2 separate regions of the Homo sapiens genome follow, and region 1 is linked to region 2. Evidence: fine-mapped expression QTL. A gene starts in region 2. The other region holds a variant in brackets. All regions are shown on one strand. Distances are from middle to middle. Region 1 holds the start of TNFRSF13C (TNF receptor superfamily member 13C). Region 2 holds the start of PHETA2 (PH domain containing endocytic trafficking adaptor 2).

The links. PIP is the estimated chance that this variant, and not a neighbour inherited with it, causes the effect.
Region 1: its variant is fine-mapped to the expression of PHETA2 in whole blood (INTERVAL, PIP 0.98).

What each region holds. Positions count from the first base shown.
Region 1 is chr22:41,926,009-41,928,834 of GRCh38, reverse strand. TNFRSF13C (TNF receptor superfamily member 13C) reads left to right here and starts at 2,029. Exons shown (of 3, transcript NM_052945.4): 1 at 2,029-2,197; 2 at 2,504-2,734. The coding sequence starts at 2,062. It also overlaps a transcript of CENPM not described here. RefSeq lists enhancers at 1-30, 174-243, 2,801-2,826 and a silencer at 1,969-2,708. The variant AG/G (reference allele first, on the strand shown) is at 1,321.
Region 2 is chr22:42,072,559-42,075,454 of GRCh38, reverse strand. It overlaps PHETA2 (PH domain containing endocytic trafficking adaptor 2), which reads right to left and starts at 1,207. Exons shown (of 3, transcript NM_001002034.3): 1 at 1,114-1,207. RefSeq lists silencers at 156-450, 690-1,069 and enhancers at 424-1,154, 1,155-1,887.

The DNA of each region.
Region 1 (2,826 bases), 150 kb after region 2:
GCCACAGTGCCAGAGAGAGGGACCCTTGCAGGTACAGCTCAGAATCTCCCTCCTACCCAGACACCCCCAGGTTCTGTACTGCCCCGGGACTGGTGCCCTGCCCATCCGCAGCCCGGATGCTCCCTCCTCCCTCCCAGCATCCCCTGTGGCAGTGGCCATGCCTGCCCCCAGAGCAGCTCAGGCTCCCCTTTCATCTCTCCAAGCCTTAGCCCCTGCAGCCCTCCGCCTGGAGTGTTTGCCTCCCCCTCGCTGCTGCTCAGGGTCTCCCTCTGCCCCCAGGCTCCCTCCCCAGCCCCTGAGTTTCTCCTCTCACTGTGCTTCCCCAGCCCTGAGTGCTTAGGGGTCTGGGTGGCATGTGTGGCATTTAACCCCATGCTCTCTGCTGAGCCCTGAGCTCCCAGAGTTCCCTCCAGCCCTGGCCCTGGGGAGGGGGTAGCATGTGACCAGGAGGGCGGAGGGGCTTGTGTGTGTTTCTGAGACGCAGTCTGAGAGAGACACGGGTGACAGACAGTTGGGGACCCCAAACACTGGGGAGCAGAGATAGACAGGAGGGGCCCGCAGTGAGACACAGAGGTGAGCAGGAGAGGACACATAGCCCTGGAGAAAAGGAGCAGGTGTGGGCGGGCTTCCCTCCACTGCAGTCACAGTTCCCTCACTCATAGGCAGATCTTCCTGGGTCCTCCCTGCACAAAGCCCCAGTGGCTCCCTCGTGTCCCCCAGCCACAGTCCAAGCTCCCTAATGTGCTAGATAAGGCCCCAGTCCAGCCTTTCGGTCCCAGCACTCCCTGGACTTCCTGTTTGGGCCTCCAAGCCTTTGCTCCCCTTTGGCCTTCACCCCCATCTGCTCCCTAGACCTCAGTCCATCTGGCAAACACTTCACCATCGCCCTCTCCATGAAGCCTTCCGGCCCACCTTCCAGGATGACGTGAGCTGGTGCCCTTGCTGCGAGGCTGTCTTCCCCCATCAGCACAAGTGTGAGATTCCCTCAGGGCAGACCCACATGCTACTTGGGCCTGGTACAAGTGTCTGATGTCAGGCTGGGCACTGTGGCTTCACACCTATAATCCCAGCACTTTGGGAGGCCGAGGAGGGCGGATCACCTGAGGTCAGGAGTTCGAGACCAGCCTGGCCAAATGGTGAAACCCCACCTCTACTAAAAATACAAAAATTAGCCGGGCATGGTGGTGCATGCCTGTAATCCCAGTTACTCGGGAGGCTGAGGCAGGAGAATCGCTTGAATCTGGGAGGCAGAGGTTGCAGTGAGCCGAGATTGCACCACTGCACAGAGCCAGACTCTTTTTCAAAAAAAAAAAAAAAAAA[AG/G]CAGGTGTCTGATATCCCCAACCAGCTCTGTCCAGGAAGGGCAGGAAGAGAGGAGGAGACAGGTGGGTTGGGGGAGATGGCAGGGGAGCACTCGGGGTCATGGAGAGGCTTTGGCTAGACGGAGCAGAGGAACCACTCAGGGTCTGTGTCCTGGCTGCGGGGTCCATCCCCCTCCCTACCCAAGAGGAGGCTCTGGTCTGCCCCCAGACACCTCCCAGCACCCAGCAGAGGGCCCACCCAGGCGGTGCTGGTTGAGGGGCTGAATTGGGGAACCACAGGTAGAAAGAGAGGCCAGGCCGGGTGCGGTGGCTCACGCCTGTAATCCTAGCACTTTGGGAGGCCGAGGCAGGTGGATCACGAGGTCAGGAGTTCAAAACCAGTCTGACCAAGATGGTGAAACCCCGTCTCTACTAAAAATACAAAAATTAGCCGGGCGTGGCAGTGGGCGCCTACAATCTCAGCTACTCGGGAGGCTGAGGCAGAGAATTGTTTGAACCCGGGAGGCAGAGCTTGCAGTGAGCCGAGATAGCGCCATTGCACTCCAGCCTGGGCGACAGAGCGAGACTCCGTCTCAAAAAAAAAAAAAGAAAAGAAAGGGGGGCCCCAGGCGAGCTCGGTCCCACCCAGCAGGCGGGGGCGGGGCAGGGCAGAGTGCTCCCCCCGCCCCCCGCTTCCTCCCCGAGGGCCCCGGAGCCCAGCTCAGCCTCAGTCCCCGCAGCTTGTGCGGCGGCGTCGGCACCATGAGGCGAGGGCCCCGGAGCCTGCGGGGCAGGGACGCGCCAGCCCCCACGCCCTGCGTCCCGGCCGAGTGCTTCGACCTGCTGGTCCGCCACTGCGTGGCCTGCGGGCTCCTGCGCACGCCGCGGCCGAAACCGGGTAAGGGGGACCCACGGGGCGCGCGGCGCCGGCAGCTGCGGGGAGAACGGGGCCCCGATCGCCAGGGCGCAGGCAGAGCCCCGACCCCCGGGGGCGCCGAGGGCTGAAAGGACCCTGTGGGCAGGGCCTGGAGGGGCCCGCGATCACCGCGTGGCCCTCACCGCCGCCTCTCTCCCTCCCCTTGTCCACCGCCCCCCGGCTGTCCCTCCCCTCCCCGGCCAGCCTCGCCCCCCTCCGCCCCTCCCCGTCCCCGCTCCTCCCTCCCCTCGGCCCCCTGGCCTCCCTCCCTGTCCCCTCCCGAAGCAGCCGGGGCCAGCAGCCCTGCGCCCAGGACGGCGCTGCAGCCGCAGGAGTCGGTGGGCGCGGGGGCCGGCGAGGCGGCGCTGCCCCTGCCCGGGCTGCTCTTTGGCGCCCCCGCGCTGCTGGGCCTGGCACTGGTCCTGGCGCTGGTCCTGGTGGGTCTGGTGAGCTGGAGGCGGCGACAGCGGCGGCTTCGCGGCGCGTCCTCCGCAGAGGCCCCCGACGGAGACAAGGACGGTGAGTTCCGTGTGTAGGGGAACCAGTCTGAGCGGGGCGCAGGGGCTGGGGTGTCGGGACGGTCTAGGGGGAGATGCATGGCCCCTGAGGGG
Region 2 (2,896 bases):
AATCCCCCCACCCATCCACCCAGCCAGGAACCCCTGAGCAGCTTAAGGGGATGGGTCCCCTTGTCTTGACCTTTACTCTTCAGACCCCAGCTCCCTGCCTGAGTCCAGGTCAGAGCTACACATGCCCTCATGGTTCCTAGCTTTTCCCTTCTAGCACTTCCTGGCTTTAACTGAAGTCACCTAATCTGGGAGGCCTTCCATGATCACCATATCATCTAAGGTGGCCCTGACCACCAAGGTGGCCTGACCTAAGGTCACCTGACCAGTAGACCCCCCCATTTCTGGTTTGTTTCCTTCATCCCACGACGATGTCATATGTGTTTACAGCACTGTTCCCAGCCCCAGAATGTCTAGGGTGGGGCTCAGCTAAGTTCCCAGGAGAACCCCAATACCCAGCACCGTGCAGGGCTCAGAGAGGCCCTCAGGAGGGATCTGTTGAATTAATGGGGATACATCAGTGGACAAATCGAAGTCTCCCGCCCTCCTGGAGCCTACATTCCCACAGGGGGAAACACACTGTAGGCAAACAAAATAAATACTAATAAATTAATGAAAGAATAATTAGTGAAATAAGAGATAACATAAGGACCGGTAATGCTAAGGGTTATGGAGAAAAACAAGCCAGGCCCCTGGATGGGGAGAGACGCCATTCCAGTAGGGGGGGCCCAGGAAGGGGGAAGAGATCACAGATGTTTGCCAGAGGAGTGGCCTCACTGGGGGTCCTGGGCCCAGCACTGGGGCACAGGGAGGGGGTGGGCAGCCCGTGGGGCCATGACCCCTCCCCTCCCCCGCGTCTGGGGAAGGGCGCTCCCTCCTCTCCACCAGTAGGGGGGCCAGGCCACCGCACACCGGGCCTCCCGCCCGCCCCACCGTCTTCCTGGATTCTTTTGTTGGAGGAGAGGCGGGCTGGGGGTGCGGGACCGCCGGGCCAGTGGCCACTGCGGGGAGCCCCAACCCGGTTGTCGCCCTAAACAGAGGTCACCTCGGTCAGGGTCTCCCTGGCTGCCGCCTTGGTTTCCCCGTCCTCGCGTCGGGGCTGTTCGCCGCCACTTCCCCGCGGCCACACCTTCCCTGGGGCCACCTCCTCCCGGAGCCCGCCGGGCCCACTCTCACCTCCCGCCGCCGATCGCACCGAAGCCCAAGAGGGCGATCCCAGCTCGAGATCCCGCGCCTCCGCCTGGGCTGCAACGTGGCCGCGGGAGCCGGGAGACCCCGCCCGGGAGGCTGGAGTTAACGCCCCTCCCCGCCCAGTATTCGCCAGGCCCGGGATCTCCGAGGCCGCCTCGAGGTCTGCCAGGGCGGGAAACTGAGGCCCGAGAGGGCGGTGAACTGCCCGAGCCACAGCACTGGTCGGTGCGGGCGGCCTCGAACCCAGAGGCCCCCCTCGGACGGTCCGCGGGCCTCGGACCCAGCCCACCGTCCGGAAAACTCTGTCCATCTCTTCCTCTCTGGTCCCCCTCTCCCTGCTCGGCCCACTTTCCCGGCAGAGCCAAACCAGGGATGTCTCTGGGTACCTCCCTAGGGTGGGCTCCTACACAGCCCGCGAGGGCCAGCCAAGCTTTGTTGGCCACCCACCGGGCCACCGGGGTCGGCTGATTTCTGCCTCTGGAAATTACCCATTTCTGCTTCCCTGGCCTGAAACCCACCGGCAGCCCCCAGGCTCTGCACTAGTGGGTGGAGGAGGAGGCCTGCGGTGAAGGTCGCAGGAATGCACAACCAAACCCAAGAGACTGGAACTTCTGGAAGGCCCTGGAAGCCGGAGGTGTCCTCAAACATCTGCCCATGAACCTGGCTCCCGCCTCAGAGCCTTTGCCCTTGCAGTTCCTGCAGCCTAGAATGGCCTTCCTTCCCACCCCCAACCGCAGCTCCACTCCTCAGGACGCCTCTGGACACAGATTTGAGTCTCTGCTCAGTGGTCTCCTCTGGGACCATTGTAAAGCAACCTGCCCTGCAGTCTCTGTCCCATCCCTGGGGTGTTATTTCCATCAGAGCACTCACTGCTAGAGTAAACTTTCCTATGCTCATGCTTTTATTTTCTTGTTTATTGCCTGTCTCCCCTACTAAATTTTATTCAGTTAATACTGTACACCATAATAAATGTGTTAGAAGATAATAAGTGGCATGGAAAAACAGAGGAGGGTAAGGGAGATGGGAAATTGTGGGAGTAGGGAGGTTGCAATTGCAAATAGAGTGGTCAGGGTAGGCCTCACTGAGAAAGTAACATTGGACAAATACTTGAAGGAAATGAGGGAGCCAGCCATGCCAATTCCAGGCAGAGGGAACAGTCAGCGCAGTGGCCCTCAGGCCTGTTGTGCTTGAGGACCTGCAAGAAGGCCAGTGAGGCTGGGAGGCCTGGGGAGGGGCAGACAGTAGGAGGTGGGGGTAGAAGGGGTGGGATGGGGCTCTGTAAATCTGGGAGGGCTGTTACTCTAGACAGGGCTGTGAGGAGGGACCTGAGCGATTTCAAGGCATACTCTGGCTTCTGTGGTGAGAATCAATGTCAGTGGAGGCTGGAGACCAGTGAGGAGCCTGCTGCCACTATCCAGGCGAGATGTCACAAACGCGGCAAGAGCGGGGAGGGAGAGGCAGCCAGAATTAGAATGGCTGTTGAAGGTAGAGAACACAGGATTTGCTGAGGAGTTGGATGTGGGGAGTGAGGGAAAGAGCAGGCAGGACTGCACAGTTTTGGCTTGAGCACCTAGGAGAGTTGTCATTATCTGAGATGTGGAAAGTGGCCGGTGCTTGGTCTGGGTTATGTTTGAGACACCCAGTGGCCATCTGAGTGAAGGTGCTGTTGGGGCTCAGAAAGCGATGCCTAAAAATATGGCACTTGGGCATGCTGAGTACTTTGAACCAAAGGACACTGGAAGAGCCTCAGAAGCAAAGTATCTCTCTG